Homo sapiens: one gene and its partners. The protein of the gene in region 3 interacts with the protein of the main gene of each other region in a pairwise test. Each region holds a gene or a part of one and is shown on either strand. Other genes may lie near its edges.

The links. Proteins that work in one complex are often made in the same cells at the same time.
Region 1: the proteins of ASB3 (region 3) and GLE1 interact in binary tests that used the Homo sapiens proteins (3 or more experiments, as listed by UniProt).
Region 2: the proteins of ASB3 (region 3) and JPH3 interact in binary tests that used the Homo sapiens proteins (3 or more experiments, as listed by UniProt).
Region 4: the proteins of ASB3 (region 3) and PRKN interact in binary tests that used the Homo sapiens proteins (3 or more experiments, as listed by UniProt).

The regions. Positions count from the first base shown.
Region 1 is NC_000009.12:128,507,719-128,511,218, forward strand, and holds part of GLE1 (mRNA export factor GLE1), read left to right. Parts: intron 1-1,157; coding exon 1,158-1,379; intron 1,380-3,500. UniProt on the Homo sapiens protein: Required for the export of mRNAs containing poly(A) tails from the nucleus into the cytoplasm. May be involved in the terminal step of the mRNA transport through the nuclear pore complex (NPC).
Region 2 is NC_000016.10:87,693,008-87,696,507, forward strand, and holds part of JPH3 (junctophilin-3), read left to right. Parts: intron 1-1,629; exon of another isoform or gene 1,630-3,134; intron 3,135-3,500. UniProt on the Homo sapiens protein: Junctophilins contribute to the formation of junctional membrane complexes (JMCs) which link the plasma membrane with the endoplasmic or sarcoplasmic reticulum in excitable cells.
Region 3 is NC_000002.12:53,671,954-53,675,453, forward strand, and holds part of ASB3 (ankyrin repeat and SOCS box protein 3), read right to left. Parts: intron 1-3,500. UniProt on the Homo sapiens protein: Probable substrate-recognition component of a SCF-like ECS (Elongin-Cullin-SOCS-box protein) E3 ubiquitin-protein ligase complex which mediates the ubiquitination and subsequent proteasomal degradation of target proteins. Recognizes TNFRSF1B.
Region 4 is NC_000006.12:162,437,767-162,441,266, reverse strand, and holds part of PRKN (E3 ubiquitin-protein ligase parkin), read left to right. Parts: intron 1-3,500. UniProt on the Homo sapiens protein: Functions within a multiprotein E3 ubiquitin ligase complex, catalyzing the covalent attachment of ubiquitin moieties onto substrate proteins. Substrates include SYT11 and VDAC1.

The DNA of each region.
Region 1 (3,500 bases), on a different chromosome or scaffold from region 3:
CTCTAGTAATAATACAAAAATTAGCCGGGTGTGGTGGTCGACACCTGTAATCCCAGCTGCTCGGGAGGCTGAAGCAGGAGAATTGCTTGAACCCGGGAGGTGGAGGTTGCAGTGAGCTGAGATCGTGCCACTGCACTCCAGCCTGGGTGACAGAGCAAGACTCCATCTCAAAAAAAAGGCTGGGCACACAGTGGCTCACGCCTGTAATCCCAGCACTTTGGGAGGCTGAGGCGGGTGGATCGCCTGAGGTCAGGAGTTCGAGACCAGCCTGACTAACATGGAGAAAACCCCGTATCTACTAAAAGTACAAAATTAGCCAGGCATGGTGGTGCATGCCTGTAATCCCAGCTACTCAGGAGGCTGAGGCAGGAGAATCACTTGAACCTGGGAGGTGGAGGTTGTGGTGAGCCAAGATCGTGCCATTGCACTCCAGCCTGGGCAACAAGAGCGAAACTCCATCTCAAAAAAAAAAAAAAAAAAGACCAGCCTGGGCAACATATCAAGACTCCATCTCTATAAAAAATGAAAAAATAATTAGCTGAATATAGTGGCGCATGCCTGTACTCCCAGCTGCTGGGGAGACTGGTTGAGGTGGGAGGATAGCTTGAGCCCAGGAGGTCAGGCTACAGTGAGCCATGATTAGGTCACTGCACTCCAGCCTGGGTAACAGAGTGAGACCCTGTCTCAAAAATAATTAATTTTAAAAATGAAAAAATATATACATCTAGGTTTGTGTAAGGATGCTTTACGATACTCGCACAATGACAAGATCACCTAACCCTGTGTTTCTCAGAACTTACCCCCATTGTTAAGTGACTGACATTCTACTGATTGTGTATACAGTAGCTTACTTCAGAATTCCTCGTGTTCTGTTCAGTGCTTTAGATTGCTTTCACATATGCTTTAGTGGGAATCTTTGTGCATTGTCCCTTTTTCTGTAGTTAGGGTTATTTAGTCTGATTTTCATTAGAAGGATAGTAGTCTAGGTCATTATCAAGAAACCACTGTACTTTGTTTTCATCTGATTGTTAATACATTACTTTGGGTCTTTGATGTTTATTTATTTAGGCCTTCTTAGATGTTCAGTAAGGCATGTAGTGGATTATACTGAGAACAGTTGACGTGTAAGTTGAGCTTAACCCTATTCTTTTCTCTAGGATGTTTTAGAAGAATGTATGTCTCTTCCCAAGCTATCTTCTTATTCTGGATGGGTGGTAGAGCACGTCCTACCCCATATGCAGGAGAACCAACCTCTGTCTGAGACTTCGCCATCCTCTACGTCAGCTTCAGCCCTAGATCAACCCTCATTTGTTCCCAAATCTCCTGACGCAAGCTCTGCCTTTTCCCCAGCCTCCCCTGCAACACCAAATGGAACCAAGGTAAGGTTGTGATCAGCTTAAGACAAAAGACATGGTGGCTGCAAAGTCAAAATGTTTAATATTGTCATATGACAGTGACCATACCCTAGGGGAAATAATGATTGCTCATTGTTGTAGCTGTTGTAGAGACAATGTTGACAGCACCATTCAGTGTTCTCTTTAGACAGATCCAGAGGGAGAAAAATCCCCTCTATTCTTAGTACCGAGAATAGTATAACTAATTTCATGAGCAATTGGATTTTTTTTTTTTTCTGATGAACGCTGCGTCTGTTTAACTGATATGGTCTCCCTTTTTGTGTTATCTGCTGGAAGAAGGCTTAGAGTGAAATGTATACCTTCTCTTTAAGTTTACATGCCTTCTCTCATTGGTTCTGTAGGAGATTTTACCCTATTCCTGGCTCTGTTTTGTCCCTGCCTCTGTTTTTTTGTTATTTCTCCCACTTAAAAATGCTAAACTGGGGCCATTTCCTCTCAGAAGACCCCTCTCTCTCACTAGAGAGAGAACTATTTTCCTTTCTCTTTCTCTTGCCTATTAAACCTCCACTCCTAAACGCAAAAAAAAAAAAAAAAGTTAAATTGGACCCAACACAGTGGCTCATGTCCATAATTCCAGTGCTTTGGAAGGCCAAGACAAGAGGATTGCTTGAGCCCAGGAGTTCAAGACCAGCCTGGGCAACATAGTGAGACCTTGTCTCTCCAAAATACTTAAAAATTGGCTAGGCATGGTGGCTCGAGCTTGTTGTCCTAGCTACTTGGGACATTGAGATGGGAGGATCACTTGAGCCCAGGAGTTTGAGACTACAGTGAGCTGTGATCAAGCCATTACATTCCAGCCTAGGCAACAGAGTGAGTCCCTATCTCAAAAAAAAGTTAAATTTTGGAAGTTTTTTAAAATTACTTTTTATATACTTCTAGAGGTAGTTTGTGTATATACAAATATACGTGAACATGTCTTCTTCTTCACCCTCCCTTTTTTTTGAGCTGAGGTCTGTCTCTGTCAACCAGGATGGAGTGCAGTGGCATGAACATGGCTCACTGCAGCCTCCACCTCCCAGGCTCAATCCACCCTCCTGTCTCAGCCTCCCGAATAGCTGGGACTGCGTGTGGACACCACCATACTTGGCTATTTTCTTTTTCTTTTTTTTTTTTGAGACGGAGTCTTGCTCTGTCCCCCAGGCTGGAGTGCAGTGACGCAATTTCAGCTCACTGCAACTTCCGCCTCCCGGCTTCAAGCGATTCTCCCACCTCAGCCTCCTGAGCGGCTGGGATTACAGGCACCCACTATCACGCCCGGCTTATGTTTGTATTTTTAGTGGAGATGGTGTTTCACCATATTGGCCTGGCTGTTCTCAAACTCCTGACCTTATGATCTGCCCACCTCGGCCTCCCAAAGTGCTGGGATTACAGGTGTGAACCACCACACCCAGGCTTTTTTTTTTTTTTTTTTTTAAGATGGAGTCTAGCTCTGTCACCCAGGCTGGAGTACAGTGGCATGGTCTCGGCTTACTGCAACCTTTGCCTCCTGGGTTCACGCGGTTCTTCTGCCTCAGCCTCCCAAGTAGCTGAGATTACAGGTGTGCGCCACCATGCCTGGCTAATTTTTGTATTCTTAGTAGAGACAGGATTTTGCCATGTTGTCCAGTCTGGTCTCAAACTACTGACCTCAGATGATCTACCCACCTCGGCCTCCCAAAGTGCTGGGATTATAGTCGTGAGCCACTGTGCCTGGCCAGTTTTTTTTTTTTTTTTCTTTTTTACATAGAAAGTATTTTTTTTCTATCTAGTAGTTCATCTTTTAAAATATTAGTCTTTAAAAAATATTCTTTGTGGCCACGTGTGGTGGCTCACACGTGTAATCCCAGCACTTTGGGAGGCTGAGGCAGGTGGATCACTTGAGATCAGTAGTTCGAGAGCAGCTTGACCACAGTGAAACCCTGTCTCTACTAAAAATACAAAATTAGCTGGGCGTCGTGGCGCACGCCTGTAATCCCATCTACTTGGGAGGCTGAGGCACTAGAATTGCTTGAACCCGGGAGACGGAGGTTGCAGTGAGCTGAGATCATGCCATTGTACTCTAGCCTGGGTAACGGAGCAAGACTCAGTCTCAAAATATATGTATAT
Region 2 (3,500 bases), on a different chromosome or scaffold from region 3:
TGGGCCCTTGGCTGTTCTCTGCCCCCTGCAGGCTGGCCCGGCCCAACCAAGTTGTCATGGGGCCCAAGACTCACAATACACCTGCCTGAGGCCACGATGCCACGGAAAGCTGGGCTCAGGGCAGCTTGCTTTCTCTCTGGCTGAGTGGAGGCCCTTGCTGTGTCCACAACTCCACTTCCATCTGCGCCTCAGGTCCCTGATAGGCTGGGAGGTTGCGGAGGGTGTGGGCCTGGTGCTGCTGTGGCTGCAGGTGCCCCCTAGGCAGCACCTCACCCTCTGAGGACCCTCCTCTCTGAGCTGCATCCCAAGGACAGTTTACAAAGCCCTTTGCTGACTGGGGTTCAGCTTATCTGTTGAGCAAACTTTTTCTTTAAAAAGTTTCTTGGCCAGGCACGGTGGCTCACACCTATAATCCCAGCACTTTGAGAGGCCGAGGCAGGTGGATCACCTGAGGTTATCAGTTCGAGACCAGCCTGGCCACCAGGGTGAAATCCTGTCTCCACTTAAAAATACAAAAATTAGCCGGGCATGGTGGCACACGCCTGTAATTCCAGCTACTCAGGAGGCTGAGGCACAAGAATTTCCAGAACCCGCAGGAGGCAGAGGCTGCTGTGAACTGAGATCATGCCACTGCACTCCAGCCTGGGCAACAGAGCGAGACTCCATCTCAAAAGTTTCTCAAGCCAGTGTCTCTAGGGCCTGAGGGCTCCAATCCCCAGTGTGAGGTGAGGCGCTCGGGCCTGGGAGCTGATGCCCAGCATACAGTCGGGGGTGCCCCTGCCAGGTGTGGTGCAGAGCACGGCGGGGGTGTGTGAGACCTGAGGATAGCGTCTGGATGTTTCTCTCACGTTAACGGGAATGAGATAGGCTCATTGGCTGCTCATCCCCAAATCCAAATGGAAAACCGCCATTCGGGCCAGGCAGAGGCAAGTACTCCCACCCGTTGCCGCTGCCGTGTTGAGCCCACCGTGCCGAGTGGTGTTGGCAGGAGCCTCCCGAGGAAGCTGTGCCAACGCAGGAGTGGTCAGAGCCTGTCCAGGCCACAGACGGGGCTACGATGAGCACTGCTGCCCAGGGCATGTTGGGGGCAGCTCCTGGAGACCACAGGGAGGGGAGGTGGGCACCCAGGTGTGGGCAGAACTGGACCAGGAGGAGGAGGGGCAGCAGCTTGCTCAAGGCACAGGGCCTCAGCCACAGGGTGGCGGGCTGGGAAGGGGCGAGGGTGTGGTGGGTTCTGAGTGCCCCATGCAACGGCTGTTTTGGGCCACGTGCTCAAGCAGGCACCCAGGGAAGACCAGCCTAGGTGCTGGCGTGAGGCCCTTCAACATCAGCTACGATGCTGCTTCATCAGGAGCACAGCCTGGGGAAAGAATGAAACTGACCCAGGAGACAAAAGGGTCCCCGGGCCAGACGGTCAAGCAGGAGGCTGCTTCGCTGCCGCGGGATGTGGCATCCAGGCTAGGCAAGGGGACGGCAGGCTGCCATCCCCAGAGGGAGTTCTCCGGGCAAGGCCGTGACCCCACTGGGGCTCTGAGTTTGCATCCTTCCTGTGTGTCAAGAGCAGAGCCGGCCACTGCCAGCCCATAGCTCCCATGGTGCGGCCCTGGAGAGCTGACTTCATGCGGGATGTCTGCTGTTCTTTGCGTAGCTTTACTGAGACAGAAAGCGTGTACTGTTCACTTCAGGTGGCCACAGTGTACAAGTCAGGGATTTTAGTGTATTCCCAGTTATACAGCCATCACCCCCAATTCTATCTAGATCAGCTCCATCACCTTAAACCTCAGGGCCATTGAGCAGGCACTTGCTGTCCCCTCCTCCCCCAGCTCCCGGACTCTGCTTTCTGCCTGGTGCCCAGCTTCTCACGCAGCATGCACTGCTCCTGCGCTTTCTCTGTGGCAGCCGCGGTTGCACGGCCCATGTCTTCCCCGCTGTGTGTTCATCCTCCACTGGACAGCTGGCTCTGCTTCCACTCCGTGGCTGTTGTGAATCCTGCTGCCGGGAGTGTGTGCACACACAAGGTTTTGAGTGGAGGCTTGACTTTGCCCTCTTAGATTTAGGCCTGGGAGTGGAACTGCTGGGTCCCCGGTGTTCTCATCAATTCTCTTCCAGTCTCTGGGAGAGGAGCCAGCAGCAGCTGCTTCGTTGTGGGTGGGGGGAAGGGGGAGGCCCGTTGTTCGGGCTCCCCTCCTTAATGCAGGCCTGAGCAGCCCTCACCTGGTGCCACATGAGCTACTCAGTCTTAACAGACCACCCCATCATGTCTTTGAAATTTGACCAGAGGCCAGACTTGGGGGCTTAAAGGAGTCCATGGAAAACCAGTCTGTTAACAGGGAGGGGGAGGAGAGTAGCCATCCCTGAGGAATGTGCATCCTGGGACCTTCAGGACAAGCCCTGGTCCATCTGTGTCGCACAGCAGCAGGATGTCTGCGTGGTAGGAAGTGGAGGGCTCCGGGGGCTCTGAACAGCTCCTTACCACAGTGGGGTCTACATCTCCTTCCAGGTGGCTGCGAGATGCAGGGCGTGGTGGGGGTGGGGAGAGGCAGGGGCAAGTGTCCTCTGGAAGCAGACTGTGGGCAAGACTGGAGTGGGTGTCCCAGCCATTCCTGGGCTGGGGCCACCGTCCAGGAGGCGTCCATTCCCTGTGCAGCAGGTACTGTATCTGTAGGGCAGCACCCACCCCTGCCGTCCTGGGAGCTTCCCAGAGGGGCCACGCTCCCTCTCCCCCTGCCTGGTGTGAGCAGAACACAGCAGAGTGCAGGACTGCAAGAATCACTGCAGAAGGGCGCCCCCGGAAAAGGCTCTGTTGTGAGACGTGTCCTACCTGGCCCCGGCAAGCACAGGGAAGGTGGCAGCTTGGTCCGAGTGCCCAGGCTGTGCGGCTGAAGGGGGAGTCTGGCACTTGGGGCTCCGGCGGAGGCTGAGGACTTGTGAGCCACTTCAGGGAGGTGGTGGCAGCAGCATTCAGGACCATAACCTAAATCCAAGGCAGCTCGCAATTGGACACAGTCCTCCAGAGCCAGTTGGCGTGAGGGGTTTGTTGAGGAAGGTGTGGTGAGGGGGGGTTTTGTTGAGGACACTGTGCTCACGGACTTTGGGAGTCCTCTGAGTTCCAGGGCCTCTCTGCTGGGCTGCATCTGACACTGGCCATGGCAGCCATGCGGGCCCTTCTGAGATTCTGAGGTCCCAGTTCCACAGGGCAGGAGAAGCCTGCTGACTGGCACAAAGGCCACACGCACCGAGACGTTTGCTTGCAGGGAGGCCTGGGTGGTTCTCTCCAAGGGGACCCTGGGAGAGCTGGTACTCAGGGTGTCGGGGCCACAAGGGAATTCCAAGGGAATTCCAGGACCAGCAACCTCAGACGTACAGGCAGCTGGGGCTTCTCTCCCGCGTCTGGACTTCACGGAGCTCAGGTTCTGGTGGGCCTTTGGTGTCCAAGCGTTTCTAACATCCTCCCGTACGCTTCCACCCCCGAGGGTCTGCTAGCTTGGTGAAAAGACGTG
Region 3 (3,500 bases):
TCAAGAGCACAGCTGATACCAGACCAGCTAGTCTGATTCCAGGTATAGGGTTCTTTAAACTCTAATACCCATAGGGCTTGAGACCAATTAATTCTCTAACATCTTCAATATCTTCCAAGCCATAGAAGTTAACTCATCATCGTTTTTAGTTTACTAGTTTAGGTTTAGTTTAGTTTATTCAGAATTAAAGAAATCACTCAAACTGGTGTTTCAAAATGCCAAATAAGAAAGCAAAAGTTATCGATTTTGTACATAAAACCTAAGTCTAAGCTGGGCATTTTCTTAAATCATGAGTCATAGATTCCCTATTATAAATAATAAGATTACAGTATCTATAGTATATAGCACGCACATTTATTTCTAACTTTTTTCATATCCATATCTTACTTAAATTTGACACTTTTCTGTAAACTTAAAGGAGAAATGATGGTTCTCACATGAAAGATGGGAAGACACAGGTAAAGGGGCCACTGGAGGAAGTTGCAGGAATACATATGGAAAGCAGGCCCAAGCTGCAAACACCACCGTTTTCCAAAGGTTTAAGTAGATTGACTATGTTCAACTATCAAGTATAAGGAAGCCCTCTTAGTAGGATCATGAACAATAATTGGTCAGTTAATAGAAACTCACCTTAAAGCAGGTGACCACAACAACCATACATACTTTAAACATTCTAATTTAAAATGGATACATGAACACATCTAGAATGCAACATCTATGGCTTGCAGTTTATTTATGTATTTTTTACTCACCACTATATAAATAAGGACACAGTTTCACTTTCTTTGAGTTACAGCATGGATTTAAAGGCATGTATGAAACAAGGTGAGTGCATAATCCTTCCATATTTTTACAGGTTTTTTTGCTTTCAGTTGTTGTAGCCACGTCTAATTCAATATCTATTTCTGTTCTGTGCTTATCTTTATCAAGTCTTTTGCATTCTACTTTGCCTTAACAGCAACAATGATTCTCTTTTCACACTCATAATTCATTAGCTTGTGCAATCTGGAATTATTTAACTCCAATAATATGCACAACGTAATAAAAAGTTTCAGAAATAAGCATAACTGCTGTTTGGTAAGCACACACCTCTGCTGGTAGGAACACTGGCATTCTAGAGTGTAGCTGGCCAGCTGCAAACACAGAGCATGCCAATGGACATAGTCAGATGGAAATGAAAGAGAAAATGACAAGACTGTTTAATCCAGTGTGTGTTTTTAAAGAGAATTTCTACTTATATTCAGTTAGAGTTTAACAGGCATCTGTTAAATTGAATCTCTTCATTCTGCACATTCTTAGGAACATGAATACTTACTACACAACCAGAAGGAAGATAAAGGATGGCTGTGCAACCCGGAGGAGAGCTGCTCACATGGAGATAAGGGATCCTTAATGATGCTCCAGCTTCTCAGAGTGGACAGACTACACTGGCTTAAAATTCTATGGGCTGACTGGGAAGATTCCTCCAGATACCCTAAAACTTAATGTAGTGCTGACCAGCTTTTCTAGATTATGTGACTACATCACTGGAGGTCTATCTTTAAAGCTTAATAAATCATTTGTTTATGCTAATTATGTGTAGAAGCTTAACCATTAGTGATCAAGCCACACTAGACCAGTTCGCATTTGTTAGGAGAAGCGTAACTGACTTGCCCACTGAGATGTGGCACATCAACAACATAGCTGTTGTTAACTAGATCTCAATGATTTGACTCCCAGTCCAGGGTTCTTTAAACTATGATAAGCTCAATATAATTCTCCAACATCTTCTAAACCACTGAAACTATCATAAATTTCAGAATATCTTTCCATTTAATAATAAAAAAGGAAAAGTATAGCTACTTCAGGTATTGGTTCAAATTTTAATTGCACCATTTTGGTTTTCCTTCTAAGAGCACAACAGATCACTGGCCTAATGAACAATTAGAGGTAAGAACTATGTTCAGCTGAACTGAGGGAGTGTTTCATGTGTAGATTATTAACACAGACAATAATATGCCTGTCAGTGCCATTTTTGTTTAATATGCCAGTAAATACTAAGGGAATTTTATAACCATATATGCAATATTTCAAAGCACACAAAATCCCTATGAAAGTTTTAGTGATGCATAGTTATTTCCAGACGTGTTGCCACTAGGCTAGAAGATCAAGCCATGCCTTGAATTTATAATACGAAAAAGGCCACAGAAGCTGTATGTAAAACATACTTTCATGAAAACCTATTAAAACTATATTTTAGTTTTGTTAAATACATCTCCATGTTCTTGGATTATGGCAGTGATTGTAACCTAGAAAATGACGTCTGAAACCATGCTACACTTCTAAGTCACTTTTCTGACCCAATCATTTTTATTCAATATGTTAAACTTAGTTTATCCATAGATCTATTAGCAGATGAGTAATATTTAACTTTTAATTCCTATACAGAATTCCTCTATTTTGTTCATTTTGTTATATGTACTGGCAGAACAATCAAAATAGAAGACTACATGTTGTTATACAAAGTTTTGTTAAAATCAAAAGCACACACAATGATCAAAATAAACGTCACAATTCTTAATTCATTATGCTTATAAATGCCAACTTTACTATAGCACAAAACTATATCTATATCATACACACCCACTATATTTTCTACATTCATCTTTAGCCTTCCCTCAGGCCAATGTTCAAACAACCTATCTGCCTGAACTACATTTCTCTGGTTCCTTTGAAATGTTTTGCACATCAAATGCATTTATCTGACTTCTGAGACACCTACTACCATTTTTATTTTCATCATTAATATATTGTCTTTCTCGTTGGTATCCATCCTTTTGTTCCCAGTTTTTCTTAATTTACTTGTGTTGTCTCTCTCATTGACTATAACTAAAACCGCTAGAAAAAACACAAAAAGCAAGTACCTGAGAACTCTGAAAAACAAGTAATAGATTAGGACATGAAGTCAAAACAATAGGAATGGCCAGTATAAAGGAATGACCAGTAGAGGCAATGAATGGATTAAATGGAAAAGCACCATCTAGTAGTAACACCTGTGCTGGCGCTGAGGTGCCACTATTAACTAGCTGTGTGACCCTGGGCAAGTCATCTAAATATTCTGACTTTCAGTTACCTTTCCATAAAATGAGAATAATGCCTCATCTACAAAATGGGCATAATGACACTTCCCTGCATCAAAAGGCTGTTGATGATGTTCAAGTTGGAACACATTTGCAAAAGCATTTCATAAAGTGAAACACCACACAAATCCCAGGCACCACAGAATCTAGTGATCTCCAAATGTTTTGATTACACACTAAATTAGTAAAGTCTCTGACCACAGAATCCAATATATATTTTACATATAAATTACATGTATACTATTAACCAAACATTATTTGTACTATAAAATAAAATAAGCCAATATAAAATAAGATATATACTTTAAATAATTTCATTTTTAAAGGTATAAGACTCCTTTAAATATTAATATTTTAACAAGAACAAGGTGATTGACTAGG
Region 4 (3,500 bases), on a different chromosome or scaffold from region 3:
GTTTCATTGGTGGGGAACTAGAGAAAAATGTCATGCCATAGAAGGAAATGGGAAGTCTGAAGACCCGGTTTGGTTGGGGGAAGGATGCTGCATTGTTCCAACATGATGGGAGTTGATGCCAGCTGAGTACGTGTGTTTGGAGATGCCTAGCTGGCTGTTGAGAACTTGTGTCTGAGGACACTGAAAAAGAAAGGTTCATACTTATGGAACTTCTATTAAATCACAGTTAAATGATTTAGGTGCCGAGAAGTTGGCAAACTTTGTTCATAGAAGAGTTTCACTGTAAAGACTAGGAAGTTACACATGTAATTGCAAATTGATGGCTATGTTTTCTTTAAGTGTACAACTGGCAGAATTTTAGCATCCTAGATATTCTTGTATAATCTTAGAACATATGTTTACAACTATTTAGTCAATATCATTTAGTTACCCATTATCATTACAGGTGCTATATTTCACAGTATAAGCACAAAATATCTAATAATAAGTTGCTGCTGAGAAAAAGAAGATGGACCTTCCATATGAGCTACTTAATGCTTCCATTAATGAATGTTAAATATACACCTTGGTGTCCTGAAGAGAAGAAGAGATGGCTGGGGTGGTGTCTATGCTTGCTGGGTGTCTTCCTCCTGGTTTCGTATTCTTTATCATAGGTGATATGAACATATATATTAGCTTATCATGCAAAATGAGATATTGTGAGTATAAAAGAAGACCCTGTCAATAATTATTCCAGGACAAAATTATATGTTGGGAGTGTCCTAGGAAAACTGAGGCAATGGTCACCCCACATACTGAGCAGTATCTCTCACACTTAGTTTCACCTTCTTTGAGGAGGAAATTAGTTTTAGTGCCTCACCTCAGGTACTTTGGGGAACTATAGCTTGAGACCACAGTCTTATGAAATGTCATAATTTTAAAAAGCGAGTTTGTCTATTTAACTGGCAAAGGGTATTTGTAAGATTATAATAGAATTGATGTCACATCTAAAAAATTTTCATAGAATTTTCAGTTCTGGGAGAGCATATCCACAGGCCACTTAGAGAAGCACTGTTAGAGTATAGTTATTTTCATTACACACTCATCTGTTCAGTTTTGTTATTGGCAAGACTTTAAGAACTTTAAAAAATTAAAGGAAAATGGAAAAAATATAGACATTGAAAACGAATGATCTGGCACAGATTTTGCTTCTGGGAAGCTGGAGTAGGCATACTTTTCCCTCTTCCTCCCAGCAACTACACTAAAAAGCCTAGACATTGCATATTGTACAGTTGACTCGTGGAGTCATGGAGTTAGGGGTGCCAACCGCTATGTAGACAAAACTCATGTATACTTTTATCTCCCCTCACACTTTACCAGTAGTCTGCTATTGACGGGAAGCCTTACTGATACCATGAACAGTTGATTAATACATATTTTTCATATGTAATATGTACTGTATGCTTATAATAAAAAAACTAGAGAAAACATTAACAGCATTACAAAAAGGAGAGAGGATACTTACTATTCATTAAGTAGAAGTGGATCATCAAGATTTTCATTGTCTTTGTCTTCATGTTGAGTAGGCTAAAGAGGAAGAGGAAGAGGGGGAGTTAGTCTCACTGTCTCAGGGGTGGCAGAGGCAGAAGAAAATCTGCATATAAATGGACCCATGCAGTTTCAACCCATGTTATTCAAGGGTCCGCTGTACAAGCTTAGGAAGATTCTGAAAGTAGTGAGAAGAATGTGGACAGAGTAGGGATTTTAGAACCCAAGGAAGAATCCAGAGGTGAATTTCTTGAGTTTTCTTTTTGCTACGTTACCTCAGATGTGGAACTGAAGAAGCTGGCAACCAGGAAATGTCAACATATATAGACAAAAAGAAAAGAGAAGAAAAAAGAAGCAGAGAGGAAGGGAGGGGCAGAGAGAGAGAGAGAGAGAGAGAGAAGGGAGGGGTAAAGGAAGGGGGAAGGGAAGGGAAAAGGAAGAAAGGAAGGAAGGAAGAAATCCCCAACAATGGCCTGTTTTTTATCCAGAGGACTCAGAAAGGGGCTGCCTAGCAACATAGAAAACATTTAGACAATAACCAGTCTACTCCAGCCAAATGCAACAGAAAAACTGCGGCCCTATCCTTGTCCCCACCAACACTAGTAAAGGCTGAGTGGAGAGCCTCTTGTTTGAAATTTCTGAAATAAAACACTCACTGATGGGTTTGACATAAGAATGGAAGGAACAGAGAAAAGAGTCAGTGAACTGGAAGTTGGAACATAGAAATGACACGGTCCAAATGGCAAAGAAAAGGTAGGCTGGAAAAAGAAAAAAGGAATAGAGCCTCAGAGACCTGTGGTTCTCCAACAGAGCATTTAAAGTTTGTGTCAGGGGATTCCTGGAAGGAGAAGATAATGGTGGGCAAATGCTCAAAGAAATAAGTGTTGGAAACTTCCAAAGTTTGCAAGAGACATAAAGTTATAGATGGATTTATAAAGCTGAGTGAATCTAAAACAGGAAAAACCCAAAGAAACCCACACCAACACACAACGTAATTCAACTTCTTAAAACTAAAGACAAATTTTAGATCTTGAAAGAAGCCAGAGAAATATCACACCTTCCCTATAGGGCTAACATTGTTCTAATTACAGTGGATTTCTCATCAGAAACCATGAAGGCTAGAAGGAAGTGGCACAATGTTTTTCAAATGCTGAAAGAAAAGAACTGCCAACCTGTAATATTATACCCAGTGAAAATGTCGTTCAGGAAGAAAGAACAAATCAATACTTTTTTTTTTAGATAAAGAAAAACTAAGCGAATTTGTCACCAGCAGACCTACCCTAAAAGAATGGCTAAAGAAATTTTCTAAACAAATGAAACAACAAAAAAAGGAATTTTGGAACACTAGGAAGGAGGGAAAAACATAGTAAGCAAAAATATGGTTAAATACAATGCACTGTTTTTCTCCTCTTGAGTTTTCTAAATTATGTTAGAGGGTTGCAGCAAAAGTTATAGCATTGTCTAATGTAGTTCTACATGTAGAAGAAACATTTCAGGCAAACATAAACACAGATGCAAGGAAAGGTAAGATTTCTAAACTTGACCTACAAAATAGCAACTGCAGTAGAGCATGACAAGTTAAGAATGTATAAAGAAATATCTAGAGTAATAGGTAAAGTAGGTAAATTAAAATACAAAATAAAGACAACACCAAATGCTGGTGAGGATGTGGAGAAATTGGATTACTCGCAAATTGCTACTGGGAATATAAAATGGTAGAACCACTCTGGAAAAGAATATAGCAGTTTCATAAAAAATGACATATGTATTTACCAGATGACAGAGTTATACTCTTAGTTATTTATCCTAGAGAAATGAAGACGTAGGTACACACACAAATCTGTATATGAATGTTTATAGCAGTTTTATTCACATTAGCAGAACACGGAAACAACTCTGATGTCTTTCAGTGGATCTGTGGTTCAACAAACTGGTACCTCCACACCCTAGAATATTACTCAGCAGTAAAAAAG